Linked DNA regions of Homo sapiens: regions 1, 2, 4 and 5 are each reported to be linked to region 3. Evidence: microRNA targets listed by miRTarBase, many of them from high-throughput screens and not tested one by one. Region 3 holds a microRNA gene; each other region holds the end of a gene's coding sequence. Distances are from middle to middle.
Evidence for each region. The annotated mature microRNA hsa-miR-4520-2-3p reads UUUGGACAGAAAACACGCAGGU and lies in region 3 at 2,564-2,585, opposite strand. An mRNA with a match to its seed (bases 2 to 7 or 8) in the 3' UTR can be bound and repressed. Matches are read on the target gene's strand: a 7mer-m8 pairs with bases 2 to 8, a 7mer-A1 pairs with bases 2 to 7 and ends in A, and an 8mer does both.

Region 1 (4,000 bases), 12 Mb from region 3:
GGCCTGCCGGCTCCTGTGTGCCTGAGCAGGGTCCTGTGCTGGGGCGGGGTTGGCCCTTCTTGCTCAGCCTCACTCTCTGCTCTCTCTCTCCCAGGGCCAGCAGTTTCATCATCACAGGGTCCCTGCCTCAGGGACTAGGGATAAAGACGGCTTCCCAGGACCCCCTAGGTACCGCTCTGCTGCTGACAGCGTCCAGAGCTCTACCAGAAACGCTGGCCCAGCCATGGCTGGCCCCCACCACTGGCAGGCCAAGGGAGGTCAGGTACCCCGCCTGCTTCCGGATCCCGGCAGCCCAAGACTGGCCCAAAATGCCCGCCCCATGACCGATGGCAGGGCCACCGAGGAGCATCCGAGTCCCTTCGGAATCCCATACTCCAAACTGTCTCAGTCGAAGCACCTAAAGGCCAGGACGGGCGGTAGCCAGTGGGCCTCATCGGATTCTAAACGGAGGGCTCAAGCCCCCCGGGACCGCAAAGACCCCTAGCAGCATGTCCCAGCCTGGAGCCACACCTTCTGAGGCCCCAGCCCAGACTCATGACGCGGAGGGCAGACAGGCCGCCTGGGCCTACCAGAGCCCACTGGGACGGCAGGAAGGTGGGATGGGCGGGAGACGTTGGCACTCACCTGGTCGGTGCACCAGTACCAGGTGGCCATGATGGTCAGGCCAAAGGTCATCCCGGTCCACGGCAGGTCCCCTGTGTGGGGGTCTCGAAACATGTGCATGGCGTCTGTACGTGGCAGGTGGCAGGTGGTGTTGGCAATGGTCCTGGAGGGAATGGCCTGGGCGTAGGCTGCCTCCAGCTGCCCGTAACCACCGATCTGGTCAAAAGCTGGAGGGGTCAGGGTGGAACAGGGACAGTTTGGTGGTTGCGGGGCCCTGACTCCCTGGGCTCCCCCCTGCCTTCATCTCACAAGAAACTTCCTGATGCATCAAACTTGAGTTTTTTCCACCTCATCTTTCCCAGTGTTTGGAAAGGTGTGAGGGTAGAGGGTTGTTTTTTTTTTTAAGGTGTATTTGAATGACTATTTTATTCGTATTTAAAATAATACTATTAAGTAAGCATTTTGCACATGGGCACCCCAGTGTCCCGCTGGCCCAGCAGGAGTCACTGTTGGCCTCTGGACACTCATCGGCCTTGGGCAAGTGGTTCTCAGCCAGGTTTCCGATTGTCGATTCAAGGAAGCAAAAGTAATTTTTCTTGACATTTGAGGACCTTCCTGAGGCTTCTAAAGTGTTCATCCTGATCACCTGAAGGGTGTGATTTTAGCAGAGCTGAGAGTGGCTGGTGGTGATGTGGCCCCACCCCCTGAGGCACAGAGAAGAGGGAGACAGGTCCAGAGAGGGATGGGGCCTCCACCAAGACCATATAGACCATCTGGCGGGCTCAAGCCGGGGCTTTTTCCTCTCCAGTCCAAAACACCTCACTGTTCCTGTCTACCTCGGGGTCAGGGCCCGGCATGGCCAAGCCCTGGCCCATCTGTGTCTGTGTCACTCCCCTCCCTTCCAGACTGGGCCTGGCTGCTGGGATCCCTCTCATGCGGTGGGTCCCAGGGACACTAGAGCCCCTGGTCTGAGAGGGAGAAGCCTGGATGTAGGAAAACCCGTTTCCACCCCAGGCCCTACTCCCTAGCCTTTTCCAAGTGGGACATGGAAGAGGCAGCCTGCTGCCTGGATGCTGGTCTCCCCAGCATCACTGTTCCCATGGAGCTCAGGTCAGGCTCTGTATTCAGACCGAGGGTTTGTGTGAGGCTCAGAGCAAATGAACAAGTGCCATTCAAGGGTTAGAAACTGCTCAGCCACAGGGTCCCAGTGTCTGAGTCTGGAAGAGTCTTTAGAGATTTGTTCACTCTCTGAGGGATCCTCCTGGCTCTGCTTACATACTTCCAGGGACGGTGAGCTCACGCTCTCTCCGGGCAGCCCTGTGAGTTTCCTATCTGTTCCAGACTAGTATCGCCAATCTCTCCCAGCTCTCTTCTTTCCTCCCTGGCCTTTGTCCTGCAGGAGGTAGCATCACCTCTTGGCATTTTGTACATGCTTTTAAACAATTGGAGGAGCTGCCCAGGCAGTTTTATGGCCTCCTGGTTGTGTGCCTTCACACCCGCCTACAGCCCCACCTCACCATCAAGCGCTGAGCCAATGCGGGTGTGGCTGGCCCTGAGTTCCTGAGTCAGCTCCTTGCCAGGGCCAGAGCTGGTAACAGCGGGGCAGCAGGGTGGGTAGCCTCTACCAGCCAGGGCAGTCCCTGAGGGGCCAGCAGGGGGGCTGACTGCCTAGTGGCTCAACCTCCTGAACCCACCCACTCCCAGCGATGCTACCCAGAACCCCAACGGCATGAATCCTGCACAGTGCCGGGCAGTGCCAGACTCCAAAGGGCTCGCTGTGGGGACAGCCCCGCCATGGCCACAGACTCTGTCCTCACCTTTGATTGTCAGGATGACAGCCCCCACCACCATGATGAGCGTCTGCAGGGCGTCCGTGTAGATTACAGCAGCCAGGCCCCCTGCCAGTGGAAGCAAGGTTGCTGGAGGGGGCCCTGGCCCCAGGGAGGAGGGACACGGGGAGGAACTTCTGGGGCTCCTGCTGGGGCCACTTCCTGGGCTGCTCCCTCGGGCCTGTAGGGGGAGGTGGCCTTCTGACCCCTTTACACGTCCCCTGGGTGGACCTCCCTGCTGCAGGCACCATACCTGCGATGGTGTACAGGGCTGTGATGCCGAGCGTGAGGATGGTGGAGAGGTAGAAGTTCCAGCCCAGGCAGATGTGCACAAACAGAGCCCCCGCGTACAGGTCCAGCTGCGGAGGGAGAGAGCCTTGTGTGGGACTGTTATTCCCAGGGCTCCAGCAAGCCACTCCCTGGGTGACCTCGGGCAAGGCCCTCTCTGGGCCTCGGTGGCCTGTGGATAAGGAGGGGAGACCCCCACTCGCCTGCCTGCCTGCATCACGGGGCCATTGTGAGGTTGGGGGAAGACCTGGCCGTGGAGCTACAAGCTTGTGCGGATGTCAGGGGACATTACTGTTGCTAATAAAGTCCAAAGTGGCCAATGCCTTTCCCAAAAGCAGTGTTGTTATTGAATCTGGCCCCTTCCCGAGGGGATAAAAGGCAGAGCCCTGTCCCCTCGGTTCCCAGGGGCACCTTGATGAGTTTGTGAGGAGTCTGTGAAGACCAGTAGGCCTCAGGAAAAGTGTGTGCTGGGCGGACCAGTAGGCCTCAGGAAAAGTGTGTGCTGGGCGGACCAGGAAACAGAGGGGCAGCCTTGCTTCCTGCCCCCACCCCCCAGTGGGTTTGGAACTGAAGCCAATAGTGGCTCAGAGGCTGGGTCTCAGGCTGAAGCTGGTCTCCACACTGACTGGACACAGCCCCTGCCCTCCCAGAACCTGTGGCTGCTCCTCCTAAAGGCAGGAGCGCTAGCCTGGAGGCCAACCTCTGCCTGGCATGGGCCTCAAAGACCAGAATCCCACCCTCCACCTGGCAGTAGGGGCCCAGTGAGAGGAAGGGCAGGACCCTGTTCTCTGGGACATGGGCTAGTAACAGGCTTCACCTTGCCCCACCCCTGAGTTCCTAAACCTACCATTCTGCTTTGACTCAGGAGATGCGAGATGACCCAACACACAGCCTCAGGGGCCAGGAGCTTCCTGAGAAGGCTGGGGCCCTGTGCTTCCTAGTGTGGGGACACATCTGCACGAGGCCCAGGAAGTGCAGGCCCCAGGCCCCTTTGAGCTCCCCCAGGCAGGGATCCCTGCCTCCTGGGGTCTGACACAGGGCCCAGGCAGGATGGGATCTGGCTCCAAAGCCTGTGCTTCCTGTACCTCTCCCTCCAGGCGCCTCTCTCAACCTGTCTTAGAGAGACCAGCCAGTTTGGAAACTAGCCAGGGGCTTTCAGGAGAACCCCGGCTCTGGTCCTTATCTTTGGCTGTGTGTGTGTGTGTATAGGAAGGGCAGGTAGTTCAGGGGAAGGTGTGGTGGGGGGTGGGGGCGGGATCTGCCTCCAGCCCAAGTAGAGA
Region 2 (4,144 bases), 6.1 Mb from region 3:
GCTCTGCCCATGGTGGGCATTAAATATTAGCCACTGGATGAGTAAATTTGTTGTGGGAGTTTTCAGCCAGACCAGAATCTGTTTCTAAAAGAGCTGATTGACTTTAAAATAAATAACATTTGGAAAGGACTATTTTGAATGCTTGGGATAGGTTTTATTGATGCTTTTTTTTCAGGTTGGACATAAATGTTTTTGAATGGCAAAAGGCTGACAGTTCTCAGACCCTCTATTATTCAGGTGAAGATTGTCTTGGTTTCCTCAATTACTGGTACAATTATTGTAGTGCTAAGAATGACTTCTCCTTAAAAAAATTCTGATTTACTTCTCATAATGTGACAGCTGAACTGAGAAGTTCATAGATCAGAAAGTTTGGCCCTTTTTTCCTTCCCTCCTTTCTTTCCTCTCTTCTTTCCTTCCTTCCCTTCTCCCTCCTTTTCTCTTTACCCCCCTACCCATCTCCTATCTTCCTTCCTCGCTCCCTCCCTCTTCTTCCTCCCTCCCTCCCTCTCTTCCTCCCTCTTTCTCCCTTAGAATAGAATATGTGTTGTCTCAATAACGTTGATAGAAGCAGGGTCACTACTAATAAGCACTGGCTTCCTGCAAGCACTTGCACGAATAAATTTTTTGACTTCTTTAGATAAGTATGAATCTACCAGACTGCAGCAGATAGCTGCAAATGTCTTCAAGTCTTCATCACCATGGGGGTTCAGAGGTCTTAAGAAAACTACACATGGTCATCTTCAGGTTCTAAGAGCATTAGGGAACTTGAATGTGACCATCTTCGTAAGTCTCTGTACATCTTTTAGTCATGCCTGATTTGTCATCACAAAAGACACAACGAAGAGTTTAAAAGAATTTAAAATAAAATTCTCAATGGGAGACAAATTCATGGATTATCTGATCTACTGGAAGCAGCCAACTTCATCAATTTTCTCCCAATTATCTCCAGTTTTCTCCCTCAAATTTCATGTCTGAGCTATGAAGAGAGAGGGTGAATGCGGTTTGTGGAGACTGTAGAAGCAGGTTGAGAGCAGTTATCCAGAGATCTGCTCTTTTAACTGTGTTGGTTTGCATTAGGATATAGGAACCATTTTATCTTTTGTCTTCCGTAAGGCATATCTATCAGTCCTGGGTCATAGCCTCAAAGATCCCCATAAAAAGGTACAATCTGGAGAAGTACAGAGGCCTCCTAACTAGGTCTAGTCTCTCAGATAGAAATACCCAAGGAAAAAATAATTAACACTCAGTCCCAGGTCTCAGAGTAGGGGCACTGTGTGAGTTTGTTTTCCAAAGGAAGTAAGGGGAAGAAAAAACATACAAACAGCAAAACGTGACACCTGAAAAGTGCACTGACCAGCAAGCTTTGTCAAGACCCCAAGAAAACACCAACAGCTGAGGAATGAACAAATGTGTGGAGTGTATTAATAAGGTTTTCTTCCCCAGTAGCTTCATCTTCAAAGGAAACACTGGCAATTTTTTCTTCTGGATTTTTTTGGTTCTGATGACTGACATAAAAGCAAAATAAAAAATTTACCATGTGGATCTTTTAAAGCACAATACAGATAAAAGGAATGTAAAATGATTTTCTTGTTCCTTTCATATTCCTCTATAAGAGACTGTGATACCATTTCCAGCTACTAATGGTGAAGCTGTTCTGTCTTTTCACATCCATATTCATTGCCAAGATGAGCTTGTTCACGATAAGCAAGTAGCTGTGAGTCATCGGGTTGGAGCCGTTAGTCATACACAGAGAGGCAACGTGTAGTCTGGTTGGTTAATCAGAAATTCATAGTGAGAAAGGCCAGGTATCATTCACAGCAGATTAAGGGTTAAAGGCTTTTGGTGTAGAACTCTGTAACGCCGCTTTTGGAGATACATGCACACACAGATATAATATACACATATGTATATATCTATTATACATACATGTATGTTTGTGTGTGTATGTGTATTCCTCCACATCCCACCCCCAGAATAAGATCTGGCAGCTTTCAGAGTAGCAATCACCAAAAACTCTCTGTGTTCACACATTTTTACAAGTTAACAATGGAATGACTTCTAAATCTTTGGTTTATCAAAAAGAGAGCTTCTAAAATCCCAACATTTTTGATTATTTTTTCTATAAGTGCACAGTGAACAACTTTTTTTTTTTTTTTACAAAAGATAAAAACAGTGCCTTAGTGATTTAAATAAAAAAACAAAACAACAGCAATAGCTCCTTTCTACAGCATGCAACAATATAAAATGGTGAACTGGAGCCACAGAGAGCCTTACAGAGACTGTTCTGAAATTTTAGCTTTTTCCAACTCCCAGCCAAAGCCACGAGAGGTAATGAGGAATGCACATTAGACCATTGTCTTTTTCCTTCCATCGTTTTCAATGCGCAATTCTGTTTTCTTTCAAAAACCCAGATCTGAAATTCTCTCTTGTAAATATCATCCATATTTGTCTTTACAATGTAATGATTTCCAATTTCCCCAGAGCAACACAAACCAATAATTTCTTGAAAACTAAACGAGAATAGAAAGAACTTCGTGACTGATGGACCAAGTCACCAGTTTCTTCCTCAAGAAATTCTTGCAACTTCCTTTTGCAGCAAACTGTGCGTGTGGAGAATGAGTTCTCCAGAAGAACCTGGATTGTTAAATTTTTCAAAAATGGCTTTCTTAGGAGTATGGCAGCTTGTTAGAACTGAGAAGTCCTCCCCTCCCAATGTGGAGGCAGAAAAAGAAAGATGGCCAAACGAGGAACAGGAAAGGATTGGTACCTTGAAGGAAAAGTGGAGTGGGAGAAAGATAAACTGATAATAACAAAACAAAAGGAGAAGTTGGACTCCCATAAGTAATAGTCCTTCTATAGGAACCCAGGGTGTTTATCCCAGGGTATGTGAAATGATGTTATTCTCTAGTCCTGTCTGAATTATCCCTGGTGGGGCTCCCTTCCTGTGCCTCGAGATATACTTCTACCAATGTGGTCATCTCTAGTCTTTGGAACTAAAGGGGGCTGTGTTGGAGAGCTTGTGGCATCTCCTTCGGGGGAAGAAGGTCTGCATTCTTCAGGGTTCTCATCTAGGACACGTACTTATCAGCACAGAGATGGTGGGAATGATTGGGCCACTAGTTAAAAAAGAAGAAAGTTCCGAGTGGAGTTCTGTGGACTCAGTTCAGGTTAATTGTTATTAGTGACCACATCGAGTCCTGGGTACAGGTTCAGAACCACTCCAGCAGGGCAGTTTTGTGGTAGAGGGAAAAGAGAGTTGATTAGCTTCCCTGGAAATCGATTGGTTTTGTTCCTCTGTCTCAAGAACTTTTGATCTGAAGCTGGGTCTGGCTTCTCTTTTGAAAGATAGTAATGGAGACATTGGGCAACAGCTTCCATTGCAGGTATGTCTTCCATAAGCTTTGAGGGGCTGGCTTCCCTGTACTCCCAAAAGACTACGTTTTCCTTCCACGTTATGTCTAGTGAATTCATGAGAAAAGCTTACAGTGTGAGCTTATGCCCCAACAATGCCTGAGAAAAATTATGGGCTAGAAAATATACTGGTCTTTGAAAAGGCAGTGAAATATCTTTTTTGGCATCCTTAATCTGAGAAAGCACATTCTTTTAATGCATTGTTGAAATCATTAACAGTTACTGACTGTTGGTAAATATTACAGTATATGTATTTCTAAAAATGACTTTTGTTCTTGTTCATTGGCACAGAAATCATTGCTTCTTTTTAATTCTCTTCTTCTTCTTCTGTTTTTGGACAGTAAAGTATGTATGGCTGTGTGCTTTCCCCCATGGAACTCCATTGGTCTTCCATAGCACTGGTGCATTGGGCATTCTACCACTGCTGCAAGTGAAGGTCCATGGAAGAATTCAAATTGAGATCAGTGACATCCAGGAAATCGATGTTGAAGATGCTGGGGCTGCTGGTGGTGAGGGCGCTAAAGCCTGGTGTGGAATTTGGCGGAGTGAGGTCCAGCCACTCCATGGTTTCCCAGGGAGATTCAGTGAAGCTTAACTGCAGCCCATTGCTGTCCACAGAAGAGGGTGAAAACTGTGTCTGCATTGGAGAGAGGGGGCCTGGCAAGATCTCATGTGCATTGAAGAGGTCTTCTGCAGCCTTCCCAGAGAATCCATCCATTATCCCATCAAAGTG
Region 3 (4,144 bases):
CAGTGCAGTGCAGCCCATAAGCCCCTTGGCTTCCACTAGACCAGGACACCTCCCTCTCACCCAGCCTCCCCTTGCTCTCACCCTTTGGCCAGCGAAACCTTAAAGTCAACACTCTTGTCTTCCAGAAATTGCTCATCCACAGGGAGGTCACATAGTTTTGCCCCAGCCACATTCAGAATTAACCCATCCTTCAAGTTTCCCCACCTGTAGGGCAGGAAGGAAATCAGGCGTGGGTGCTGGAAGCATCAGCAGCTCACGTGGGGTCAGGGGAGGAGGGCTCACCGGTACAACTTCCTTCTCTCTTCCAGCTCCTCTTCCTGGTGTTTCTGGAACAGGCCTCGAGGGTCGTCGCCCACAGTACGGCCTAGAAGGCCAGAGGAGGGCTTGGCCAGTGACTTTTGGTGAGCGCCTCTTCTCGCCCCTGCCAGGAGAGCCTCATCACTCCGTCCTTCTGTGTGACCCCTGCCTCTTCAGCATCACGCCCCTCCCCCAGGCTCCAGCCACTTTGTGCCAGCTGCAGCCACAGCCCCTTCGACACTCCCAAAGAGCCCTGCGCTCCAGGTTCCAGCACCCCCATCCTGCGCCCTCTTCTCCACACGCGCATCCCCCCAGCTTCTCTCGCACCCCAGAGGCCTCCTGACACCCCCAGCCCCGCGCTTACTGGTGCCTTCAGGCAGGCTCAGGACGCCGTCGACCTCCACCCAGCGGTAACAAGGGAACCTGACCTCGTCCCCGGCTCCGGGGCCCTACACGGAGATCCAGCTGCAGAACCTGAAGGAAGTGACGTTTGCGCAGTTTCACAAACATCAGCGGCCCCAGGTACTCCGGTACTTCCACCTTGAGTTCTGTCTCCTGCGGGCGACAGAAGAGGCTCAGCCCCGGTGGGGCCTGGCGGGAGGGGCACCCGGCTGAGCCCTGCTCCCTCCAGCGCCCACGCCCTTCCTCGGAGCCTCTGAGAGGAGGAGACGTATCGGGGTGGGGGGACTGAGCCAGAGAGAGAGGGACCGCGCCGAGCAGGTGGCCCCAGGACTCGGTTCTGAGGGGACGGGGACGGCAGGTGGGAAGGTGCGCTCCTGCCTTCACTTTCTCCTCCCTGTGGTCACTGACTGTGCCAAGCGCTGGGCTGAGCGCTGCCGCGCCCTGGACGAGCGCGCTGTGGAGCCCGGACGCGCTGGTGGCAATTCCCGCTGTGCGACCCCTCCACCCCACCCCGCCCGAGGCTGAGGACCTGCAGGGGCCCCACCGGCCTGGGGACAACCTTCCCGGAGACCTGGAGGCGGAGAGGGCTCAGCCAGGGAGAGTGACAGAAAGGGAAGGCAGGGGAAAGGCGCGCAGAAAGAGAGCGGCGGGGAAGGGAGGGCGAGCAGCATCTTGGATCTGGAGCTCAGAGCCCAGGTGTGGGGGGTCAGCAGGTCCGGAGGCTCTCGAAGGTGGCGCCAGGGGCTTTGGATTTGGTCCCGAGAACAAGCGGGAGCCGTTCGAATGTGTTAAGCAGGGGGAGTGAATTAGGGAGAAATCATTCCGGCTTCAGAAGGGCTTGGAAGGTCTGCAGCAGAGGTGGCGAGGCCGCTGGAGGTTTGAAATGGCTTTTAAAATAGAGAAACCGGGAGGACCGACGACCGCTCCGGCGACCGCAGTTTCCAGGCACCAGAGCTGTGTGGAATGAGGGGCGCTCAGGAGCATCCCCTTAATTCCAAGGAGATCGAGTAGCGGAAACATTTATTGAGCGTTTACTGTGTGTCACCAACTGCCCACCATAGGGAGGAAAAAAGGGAGGAGGGAGCGCGCCTTTCCACCTTCCGTGCCCCGTCCCCTCACCATGGAGTCGCGGGGCCACCTGCTCCGTGCGCATTTTCTCTCTTTCTGGCTCCCTTTGCCCCGCTTTCTCGGAAGCTCGGAGCAAGGGCGTGGAGTGCGGGGAGCAGGGCTCCGCAGGTTCAAGAGGACGCGGGCGATCGGGGGCGGGACGGATATTGGGCAGGGACGCGGGAGATGCTCAGGGTCTAGAACTGACTGCGCCGGATTCTTGTTTAGAGGGAGGTGAAGAGAGGAAGGAGGCGCGGGTGACACCGGGGGAGGCAGGAGGAGAGGGCTGGGAGGTGGGGAGAGGGGAGGACCTCATCCGGGCATGTTGCTTTGACGTTCCCTGAGACAGACATCCGGATTTGGCGATCTGGGAGAGAGCTAGAGCAGTGATGGGAATTTGGGCTTTCGCGGAAGAAAAAAAGTAACAGGACCGGGTAGAACACCCGGTAGATATGACATGAGATATGACGGGAGGTGGGTCGGGAAATCGAGAGCGTTCTCCTGTCTTGACTCCCCATCCCTTCCCTCTCACCACCCACTCCACCCCAGGTGATAAAGCCTGAAAGGTAGAGATCCAACAGCGCTAGCGGTTGAAACGTTTTTTAAAATAGAGAAAGCGAGAGGACCGACGGCGGCTCCGGTGACTGCTGAGTTTCCAGACAAGGGAGCTCTGTGCAATGAGGGGCGCACAGGAGCATGCCCTCAATTCCAAGAAGATCAGGTAGCCGGAAAATTTATTAAGCGCTTACTGTGTGCCACCTGCGTGTTTTCTGTCCAAATCAGAAAAGGATTTGGACAGAAAACACGCAGGAAGAAGGAATCAACCCCTGGTACAGCAGGCAGGCGAGGTAGGGGTAGGAGTTATGCACGTGTATGCAAGCCTGGATGGCTGGGAAGCCAACCTCCATCTAAAGGCAAGCGCGGACATGCACACACACACACACGCCTCACAAGTTGGATTGCAAGAGAGGGTGAAGTGGGCGAGGAGACCCAGTCAGCCGTGGCATTTGAGGAAGGTACATTTAGGCCACCGAATTCATTCCACCAACTTTGCACACTTGTCTTCCTTGTGCCAGGCTCTGGGACTCATTCCTTTTGAGGGTAAAAGTCTGCCTCCCTGGACTCCTGCCCCTCAGGCGCTCCCACAGCCCGGCACCGCCCCCTCGCCATTCCGGAGCCAGCGCGGGCTAAGCGGGCCTGGCCGGGGATGAGCGGAGCCACCGTCCCCATATTCCTCGGTGCCCCGGGACCGCAAGAGGGAGCCGTGGTTTCCGGAACTCCTCCCGCCCCTCCGGGCTTTTCCTCTGTTAGGCAGGTGGCGATTCGCTGTCTTTGCCTGTTATGGCCGCTGCCGTCGCCCTGGAGACAGGTGAGTAGCGCTCTGAGCCTGGAGTCTTCGCAGATAGAACTCTCCTTGGCCCAGACCTCTTCTCCCGCTTCCCCTGGGCCTCCTTCCAGGCCTCACTCCCGGCAGGATTAGTATTTGGACAGGGAGGAGAGAAGGCTCTTGCAGCGTCTAGAAAGGCTAAGGTACTCTGCAGTTTTCCTAATTTGGTTTGTTCGCACACCTTTGCTATTCAAACACGACCCCACCAGCTTCCCAGCGTGGGCGAGACTAAGGGAGAGGACTTGTGTCTTAAAGCGTGTCCTCCTTGTGTCTTAAAGCGTGTCCTTGATTGGTTTTCTGCTTCTCACATGAGCTTGCATACGTTTGAAATATCGTCGCCAGACCTGTGTATCATTGTGTTACTTGTGATTCTTATATATGCATATGTTCCATCATCTTTTAGGCTCTCTGGAGTCTCTTGTTCAGCTTGCATCCTAAGTTTTTCTTAACTGATTCAGCACGTGCTTTTGCGAAACTTAATCACTGTTAACAATTGTTACAATGCATTATTAAAATAGGGGAAGCCACAGTTATTACAGCCTACCTTAGAGATCACTGTTAAAATTCCTACATAGTGGCCCATGAGTGGTAGGTATTGTGTCTCATTTGTGTTGCTGTTTTCTTTGATGATTTCTCTTTACTTTTAAAGGTAACCCTCTTCCATGACTGTTCCTTAAAGTGGTGCGCTGTCCCAGTAGACCATGCTCTAGCTTTCCAAGCTGCTAGAACTGTCAGTGTTTCTCAGCCTTGGCACTATTGACATTTTGGGACCAGTGATTCTTCATCGTTGGCAGAGGGGAGGGTGTTGACCTGTGCACTGTAGGATGTCAGGTGGCATCCCCGGACTCTACCCGCTAGGTGCCAGTAGCACCTAATGTGCCACCCACCCCCTCCCAACAACTTTTCAACCAAACTAAAATGTCTCTAGAGGTTGCCATATATCCTCTGGGG
Region 4 (4,144 bases), not on the chromosome of region 3:
ACATCCATCATGATTCTTGTTATAGAAGTTTTCTCATTTCATACCTTTCACCAGAAGGCATTTTGTATTATGCAGTCTCCATGGCAGTGGTCCCATAAATGCCTGTCAACTTGATTTGACCAGTCTCATCCTATAGGACTCACTGCTGGCCTGTTGAGGAAGAGTTGCAACCTATCTCACTGTGTTATTTCTCTCTTCTCTCTTCTCCCAACCCCTCTTCCTTCTTCCCACACCTGCTTCTCCCACCACCAGTGCATTCCCAGAAGCAGAACAGACAGACCTGCGTCCGGAAGAGCCTCATATGCGCCTTTGCTATGGCCTTCATCATCAGTGTCATGCTGATTGCAGCCAACCAGATACTCCGGAGCGGCATGGAGTAGCAGCCTCCCGCCAGCCACACTGTGTTGCAGCTCACCGCGCATGTGCATGCCGTGCGGGCAGACTCTTCCTCCACACAGCAGACACGGACCTATGGACTATGGATGGATGCGGACGATGGAACCGTTCAGTAAAGAACCCAAGGTTGAGTGCAACTGGGGTTGCACTTCAGCTTCATCTCCTTGGCAGGGACACTAAAGGGCTGTCTTCAGTGCTTTAATGGTTTTGTTTTCTAATGCAATAAATCGCCAGGATTTCCAAATTATTGCTTCAACCATCAGTCATAACTCTAGAGAAAAACTTCATCTTCATCTCGGAATTCCAGCAGCCATCCAGGTATAATGGTGAGAGAGCAAGAGAGAGGCATGAACACACAGTCACCTCCACTCCCCATTCTTTCAACCCAAGGGTCAACAGGAGACTCTCTGCTGAGGTCAACCCTCAGTTCCAAGAGGCTGACTTCAGGGTTGCCACAGAAGAGGGGGCTTTCCATCCCACCCTGGCTTCCTTCCTCCACCCAGTGGAGACCCCCCCAAGGCATGAGGGGAAAGCCATTAAGTGGGGTGCAGCCCTGGCGGTCTTCAGCTGCACCCCTCACCGCTTCCGTTCTTACTGCCTTTTCTAGAGGACTGCCATTGGTAGAGCTGGGGTGCTCTCAGTTTCCGTCGGCACTTGGCTTTCTGTTCCTAGAGCCCATCCCGCACCAGCATTTTGGAACCTGCAGAGAGCCTTTCTCCCAGCTTTGCCGCCTGTGCTGCCATTAGAGAAAAAAAGAAGCATAATCGTGGGCATCTCTATAACATAGACAGATATATATATTTGGCTTCTTCGTGTGTGATGTCATTCTTCCCTAATCGCTTACACCTAATATAAGCTTGTCCTCCCTCCCACACTCATCCCTGCTTCTTTGGGGCAGGGGTGAGGCAGGTTGAGGGGGGAGGGGACTGGGACTGGCGGTGAGGTTTTGATACCCACACCCAGCCATCTGGAGTCATGGAGACCCACCACGTCTCTATGCCGGATGACCTTTGTAAGTTAAGGTCCTTGTGCATCTTACCTTTCCCTTACCTTGGAGTTTGCTTTGTTAGTCTTCCCCAGCTAAAAAGAGAAATGCAATCCAAAATGGAAAGATGGAGAGATCAAACGACTGTATTTTCACATAAGATCTTCTGGCCTTCAGATTCTGCAACTGACTCATTTTCAGGAGGTTGGGGGAAAAGATGTTTATGAGTTTAGCCAACAGAACAGGTAATTTACTCCTGCCTGCAGAATACTTTTCGTTGGGGAAGAGAACTGAATCCAAGGATCTGTTTTCAACACCATTCCAAGTCTGTAATTTCCTGACTTTTCCTAGATGTCAGCCACTACTATGAATTCAAGCTTGTGTAGTCAGATTAGCCAGTAATCTCTAGATGTAATAGTTCCCTTTGTACTTTTCCAAGCTCAGGTCTTTATTTTGTAATGGAATTACCTTGCTCCTACTTCTTTTGATTACATCCTAAAACTACATGCTTCCCCCCTTCCAGTAGCGAGCCACCAGAAGCTTTCTTGTCTCTATGCAGTGGGTAGGATTTTTTGGTGCGTTGTGTGTTCCTGATCTCCCTCCCTGTCTTCCTGCTCAGCTTTCTCCCTACTGCCTTTTCAGACTTGGAGCACCCAAGGTCTCCAATGAAAGTTTTCTCATTCACCTCTGCAAGTGCTACTGGCAACAGCCTGAGGGCAGCTGTAGAAACTTTCCCTCTGTGGGAGACTATGAATATTCCTGATGAGCACAAGTAAAACTAAGGCTTCAGCCATAATATGGAGGAGGGAGCAGATGTAAGCTCCCAAGAGCCTGGGGGATCACAGGTCCCTCTGCAAAACTTCCTGGAGTTCAGCCCAGCAAGGCCAGACCAAGGAGGCAGCAACCTGCCTTTCCCCCTTACCTGCCCTGCTGCCTGCACACTGCATGCCTGCCCCTTCTGCTGCTCCTGTTGGCTGACTCACCACTGTCCCCTTAGGATTGGAATTCTCAACTAGAACCGGTCCAAATGCAGAATATTAATACATCGAACAACTTCATCCTTAATCTCTGCCCTGGGCAGTTTGCCCTCTCCCATCTGGACTTAGATGGGAGGGCATAGCAGATCTTGAAGGGATATACTTTCCTGTTTTTCCCTGACCCCCGAACCACCCAACCACATCCATAGGGGTGCAGGACCCTAAGTAGACTGGGTAGAAACCCCAGGGATGATTCTTCAAAGCCCCCTCCTCCATGAGAGGGGACTGAAATGCTGCAGCTGAGGCTGGTCTTCAGGGCAGAAAATGAGTACTTCTTTGAAGGTGGCTTTTCTGCGAGTTCTTCTGCCTCCTGCTGGAGAACAGAGACCCTTCAAGAGGTGAGGGTTAGATTTCATTGGCAGAGAGATTAGCCACTGTGCAGGAGTAGGGAGGAAAAGGAGTTCTGGAGAGGCGCCGCCATCCTGTTTTCTGGAAAGGCTGCAGGATTCCTTTCCTAACGGTGACCTTCTTCTTGCTCCCAGTGACCTGGAAGCAAGCCCACCCTCCCCAGGGGAAAATCTAGGAGAATGCATTCCTCTGCAGACTGCTAGAGAGAGATGGCAAGAAGGAAGACACAGAATTCTTTCTGACAGCCTAGGAGTTATCTTCCCACTGTGGTAACCCCCCATGTGGCACCCAGGGACTGAAGGACACAGTGCGTGGAGACGGCCCTGAGCTAGCGGCATTCCTTAGACTTCAGGAGCTCAGAGTTTGTCCCGGTGACTTGCACCCTGGCTGCTTTGCTTGGACAGTTTGTCTTGGGTATAGGGAAGCCTTCCTTGTCAGGCAGCCAACTCCCAGCCCTGTTCACACAAATTTTATGCTAGGGCCCCATGCCAGTCAGTGTCCCCATCATGGTGGCTATGAAGCTCACGGCTGAAGATTCCAGAAGGTCCTGGTCTCCCATGCCCAAGGGATGCCATGTAGCCCCAGCTGGAAGTGACTTCCGCAGGAATTGAGAGGGAATAGCTCACCCCTCATTCTGTCCTCCGGACTTAGGAACCAGTGACCTTGGCTGCCCAACTGTGTGGAGGCTGAGTGATTGACAAACACAGGTTGGCTCATTCTTGCTGCAAGAGCAGGTACCCCCCGCCGCCCCCCTGGAAAGCACAAGTGATGAGCAAGAAGGCATTTTCCTTGGGAGAGAAGGGGAAATGGACCCTGACCCCCTTGATCCCCAAAGAAGCTGCGCCCCACCTTTCCAGATACCCACAAAGCCCCCAGACAGAATCTAGCATCGGGACTATTAGCAATGGCTTCCAGAATGTGCTTGGGTCCCACGTGACTGATCTGACAAAAAAAAAAGAGGGATATTACCATGGCAACCCTTGCATTCCACCCTGAGTTTGCCAAGGCACACAAAAATAGGGAACATTTTCTTAAAGAACACTCCAATTCAGCCTGAGTGCAACCTGACTCTCTGCATCTGTATCCTGCTGGGAGAGGCAATTACCCTTAAAGAATCTGGGTGGTATCTCTGCCTTTTTGTCTGGCATTTGAACTTGTCCTTCTATTTACTCAGGAGAGCAGGAGCTACCTGTAAGCCCTGGTATCTCCCCATCCCTACTCCCAGCCCCTTCTCCCAGGGTCCAGAGCCAGGACCCCTTAATCTAGGTAAATTGACAGAAATATCATCTTGGAAGGCAAACAAGATATTAAGCCTCCAATCTTTAAAAGTATCGGTTTGCCTGTTGAGCACACTCCTGCAAGCCAAACACGTGAACTT
Region 5 (4,144 bases), not on the chromosome of region 3:
CCTATTCTCTTCTTATAAGACACCAGTCAGATTGGATTAGGGCCCACACTACTTGGCCTCGCTTTCACTTAATTGCCTCTTTAAAAGCCCTGTTTCCGAATACAATCCCACGCTGAAATACTGGGGGTTAGGGCTTCAGCGTATGAATTGTGCAGGGACACAGTGTAGCCCATAACACCAGGAGCAAGTCAGACCCATACCAGACTTGTGGAACCCTGAATTGGTCATTTTGCTGAGGCTGCCTGAGGAAAACAAAAGGCCCAATGCGTGTCCGGTTTCCTCCCTGGTCAGCCACTCTGTCTGCATCTTTGAAGAGTAGGAATGGGCTGGGCTCCTATCTAAACCCTGAGTGTGCCATACCATTCTTCCCAGCAACTTTTACTTTGTTGACTTTGTTGGCCGAGGATTTCCTAATCACATTGTTGTTTTCCTGGCAGTTCCCAAACCAGATCTAGATTCTTACGTGTTTCTGAGAGTGAGAGAACGACAAGAAAACATACTGGTAGAACCAGACACAGATGAGCAGAGGTGAGTGGCGTGCATCTTTCACAGTGGGCACATTCCTCCCGATGGAGGGCCAGCCGAGCTCTGCAGGCAAATGTGTTTCCCTCTTTTTCAGGGACTACGTGATTGACCTGGAGAAGGGCTCACAGCACTTGATCCGATACAAAACCATTGCACCTCTGGTTGCATCTGGAGCTGTCCAGCTAATTTAAAACTAGGCATAAACAGCCAGGCATGGTGACTCAAGCCTGTAATCCCAGCACTTTGGGAGGCCGAGGCGGGCGGATCATGAGGTCAGGAGTTCGAGACCAACCGACCAACATGGTGAAACCCCATCTTTACTAAAAATACAAAATAATTAGCCGGGTGTTGGTGGTGTGCACCTGTAATCCCAGCTACTCAGGAGGCCGGGGCAGGAGAATCGCTTGAACCTGGGAGCAGGAGGTTGCAGTGAGCCGAGGTCGTGCCATTGCACTCCAGCCTGGGTGACAGTGAGACTTTGTCTCAAAAAAAAAAACAAAAAACAAAAAAAAAACAAACTAGGCATAAACTCATGAGGTCAGGAGATCAAGACCATCCTGGCTACTAAACCCCATCTCTACTAAACCCATCTCTACTAAAAATACAAAAAATTAGCCAGGCATGGTGGCGGGCCCATCTACTCAGGAGGCTGAGGCAGGAGAATGGTGTGAACCCGGGAGGTGGAGCTTGCAGTGAGCCAAGATCGTGCCATTGCACTCTAGCCTGGGCGACAGAGCGAGACTCCATTTCCAAAAAAAACACACTAGGCGTAAACAAGAATGAAGACCTGGAACCGTAGAGAAAATACTAGAAACCCCTCGTATCACGTTGTGCCTGAGGACAATAATAAAGTAGTTTACTAGGCATCAGACATTCCTCAGCAGTGCTGTGGGTCACGGGCGTGAAGCGGAGCTCGAGGCAGGATTGCTTGTGTTGCTGCATGTCCTGTCTGCTGTTTTAGCCCGTGTCAGTAGATGGGGCCATTGTACTGTTTGTTCTGCACACTTGGCGGAGCAGCAGAGGCTCTCAGCACGCCTTTTCCCTTTGTAGTATTTTCTGAGCTAAGGAAAGTCAGGCAGAAGTAGTTCATAAGAAGGCATCACTGCCTGTGATCGGGGCTGCATTTAGCCCTGACCTGATAATGGTAGGAGAGTTCATTTAGCCTTTCTGCTGCGAAGATTGTAAATAGATTAAAGAAAACAGCTGTGGCCTTCTCCCGTCATACATCATTAGACTGTGTAAACTAACATTTTAGAACCTCTAATATTGGACTTAAAACCAATTTCTGTCGTGCTTAATTGAAAATCACAACTAAACCAATAAACCATTATTAAATTTCCATTCTGCAGCAGAAGGCACCTCTGGACGGCTCCCGGCTTGTAGTTTAATGAAGTATGTGCTCCCTGCTGTTAACCCGCAGCCCTCCCCAACTCTCCAGCAGCTTTGCCAAGTCAGCCTCCGGGCCATCTGGCTGTCCTTGGCCAAGGCACTGTTAACGGAGTGACGTTAACCATCTTGTATTGTGACCTGTGGCCGCTTTTCTGGTTTAAGTCCTTCACTTTTTCAAGAGGAATGGATGAAATTAATGTGCATGCAGAGTCTCACAGTGATGCCGGAAGGAAGGATGTATAGGCAGTGAATGAATGATCTTTCCTTGAAATGCTATAAAAAGCAACCTGCATTCCAGTCTTTTCTTCCTGGTTGAAGTTGGCAGATTTCCATTTGCAGGGTATGGGCTGCGAGAGTAATCAGGGTAACATTGCTGTCATTTCCAAGAGAAATCAGTAGGGGAAAGCAAGGGAGGTCTTTTTTTTTTTTCTTTTTTGAGACGGAGTTTCCCTCTTGTTACCCAGGCTGGAGTGGCAGTGGTGTGAACACGGCTCACTGCAGCCTCCACCTCCTGGGTTCAAGAGATTCTCCTGCCCCAGCCTCCCGAGTAGCTGGTATTATAGGTGCACACCACCACACCCAACTAATTTTTTGTATTTTTAGTAGAGATGGGGTTTCATGATGTTGGCCAAGCTGGTCTCGAGCTCCTGACCCCAGGTGATCCACCCACCTCGGCCTCCCAAAGTGCTGGAATTATAGGCGTGAGCCACTGCGCACGGCCTGGGGAGGTTTTATTTCTTGACAAAGGTATTTGATACTCGTGCAGTCCCTGGAGGGTCTCACTGGAGAGACAACATTTAGGCTGAGATCTGATTAACAGGAGGCAGCTGCAGTGCAGAGGTCAAAAGGGAGGGTGTTCCAGGCAGAGAAAACAGCCTGTGCAAAGGCCCTGAGGCAGAAACAAACTCTACTTGAGGTCAGCCTGGTTAGAAAGCCCAACTCAAAATAGAAAGTATTACATGATAAGGTCTGAGGCAGGCTGGACCCAGATCTTACAGGACCTTGTTAATAAGGATCCCATTTGGTCCCCCACAGTCCTGAGAAGCGGGCAGGGCTGTGGGAAACAGCAGATATTTAGTGGTAAGCCTGAGATCAGAACCCAAGTCTGCACTTCCTAGTCACGTTCTCCCTGTAGTGCTAAGCCCAGAGACCTGAGCTGTTAACCTAGAACAGTGTGCTTCCTAAGCCTTAATGTGCATACCCATCGCCTGGAGCTCGCCTTAAGATGTAGGTTCTGCCTGAAGCCCAAGTTCATTTAGTATGTCATGGTTAATTCAGAGTAAAATCAAGAGTTAGTACTTGATTTATGCTTGTTATATAAAGAAAGAGACAACTTCACTGTATGATCATTTTGTCACTTTTCAAAAGCATTTAATTCCCATTCAATTGAAAATGTTTCAAGAACAAACCTGTTTGGTCATTTTATTGATATTGCACATTTGTATATGAATAAATTTTTGCAAATTAAAAAAAAAAAAGATGTAGGTTCTGAAACAGGGTGAGGTCCAGGATCCTGCCTTTCTAAGGAGCTCCCATGTTGTGCAGTTGCTGCTGGCCCGGGGACCACATTGAATGACGGCTCTACGTCCTCATGCCTCCAGCTGCTGCCCTGTACATGTCCAACTGCACGGAGCACTTTACATCCTCTAAAACCACAGTAAATTGCTCCATTTCCTAAATTACCTCTTCAAGAGAAGACTGGTTTTGATGTCATTTTTAAATAAAGGAGAAGTTGAATTTCAAAACCAAGTGGAACAGGAAATGATGTGACTTGGTTGACATTGATTTTAACATTTGGTTCATGGTGAGTGTTTTGCTTTATTGTTAAAAACTCGCCACTAAAAGCATGACAGAACATTTTATCAAATGATGGCGTCATCCTTTACCGTAAGTTTGCCCCTAGCAAGACAGCTCTTCCTGAGACGTGCTTGCAGGCCGCTATGTGGGTTTTCCCACCGCAGTCATCATCCGTCATCTGTGACCTTGCTGCATTTACTCCATGCTCACACCCCAGCAGCCCGCCTGGCTTTGGCATCGCCCTCAGAGGCATCAAACTTCCCCTGCTGCAATGTACAAGAGTTAGCCAGGAAGCTTGCAGAGTGCTTTGGTTTTGTTTTGTTTTTTTGACATGTCGCCCTGGCTGGAGTACAGTGGTACAATCTCAGCTCACTGCAACCTCCGCCTCCTGGGTTCAAGCGATTCTCCTGCCTCAGCCTCCCAAGTAGCTGGG

Region 1: miRTarBase lists FAM83G as a target of hsa-miR-4520-2-3p. Seed matches in the 3' UTR shown: 7mer-A1 at 1,411-1,417 and 7mer-A1 at 3,026-3,032.
Region 2: miRTarBase lists MYOCD as a target of hsa-miR-4520-2-3p. Seed matches in the 3' UTR shown: 8mer at 3,744-3,751 and 7mer-m8 at 177-183.
Region 4: miRTarBase lists CALN1 as a target of hsa-miR-4520-2-3p. Seed matches in the 3' UTR shown: 7mer-A1 at 2,403-2,409.
Region 5: miRTarBase lists GINS4 as a target of hsa-miR-4520-2-3p. Seed matches in the 3' UTR shown: 7mer-m8 at 3,531-3,537.

Annotation. Positions count from the first base shown.
Region 1 is chr17:18,967,843-18,971,842 of GRCh38, reverse strand. FAM83G (family with sequence similarity 83 member G) reads left to right here. Exons shown (of 6, transcript NM_001039999.3): 6 at 95-3,054. The coding sequence ends at 484. SLC5A10 (solute carrier family 5 member 10) reads right to left here. Exons shown (of 15, transcript NM_001042450.4): 6 at 2,686-2,791; 7 at 2,421-2,501; 8 at 625-830. Among named protein-coding and RNA genes, the nearest start is that of SLC5A10, 18 kb to the right of the region's middle. RefSeq lists enhancers at 138-1,079, 2,966-3,909.
Region 2 is chr17:12,763,327-12,767,470 of GRCh38, reverse strand. It overlaps MYOCD (myocardin), which reads right to left. Exons shown (of 14, transcript NM_001146312.3): 14 at 1-4,144. The coding sequence ends at 3,827. ARHGAP44-AS1 (ARHGAP44 and MYOCD antisense RNA 1) reads left to right here. Exons shown (of 2, transcript NR_104607.1): 2 at 3,753-4,144. Among named protein-coding and RNA genes, the nearest start is that of ARHGAP44, 24 kb to the left of the region's middle.
Region 3 is chr17:6,653,922-6,658,065 of GRCh38, reverse strand. It overlaps MIR4520-2 (microRNA 4520-2), which reads right to left and starts at 2,617; the gene lies at 2,564-2,617. MIR4520-1 (microRNA 4520-1) reads left to right here and starts at 2,557; the gene lies at 2,557-2,626. It also overlaps the pseudogene ALOX15P1. RefSeq lists enhancers at 649-698, 473-1,109, 2,387-2,959.
Region 4 is chr7:71,784,011-71,788,154 of GRCh38, reverse strand. CALN1 (calneuron 1) reads left to right here. Exons shown (of 7, transcript NM_031468.4): 7 at 253-4,144. The coding sequence ends at 380. Among named protein-coding and RNA genes, the nearest start is that of MIR3914-1, 480 kb to the right of the region's middle.
Region 5 is chr8:41,541,372-41,545,515 of GRCh38, forward strand. It overlaps GINS4 (GINS complex subunit 4), which reads left to right. Exons shown (of 8, transcript NM_032336.3): 7 at 438-528; 8 at 620-3,659. The coding sequence ends at 716. All of the region lies in intron 1 of GPAT4-AS1 (GPAT4 and GINS4 antisense RNA 1), which reads right to left. Among named protein-coding and RNA genes, the nearest start is that of GINS4, 14 kb to the left of the region's middle. RefSeq lists enhancers at 1,576-1,805, 3,770-3,919, 3,980-4,069.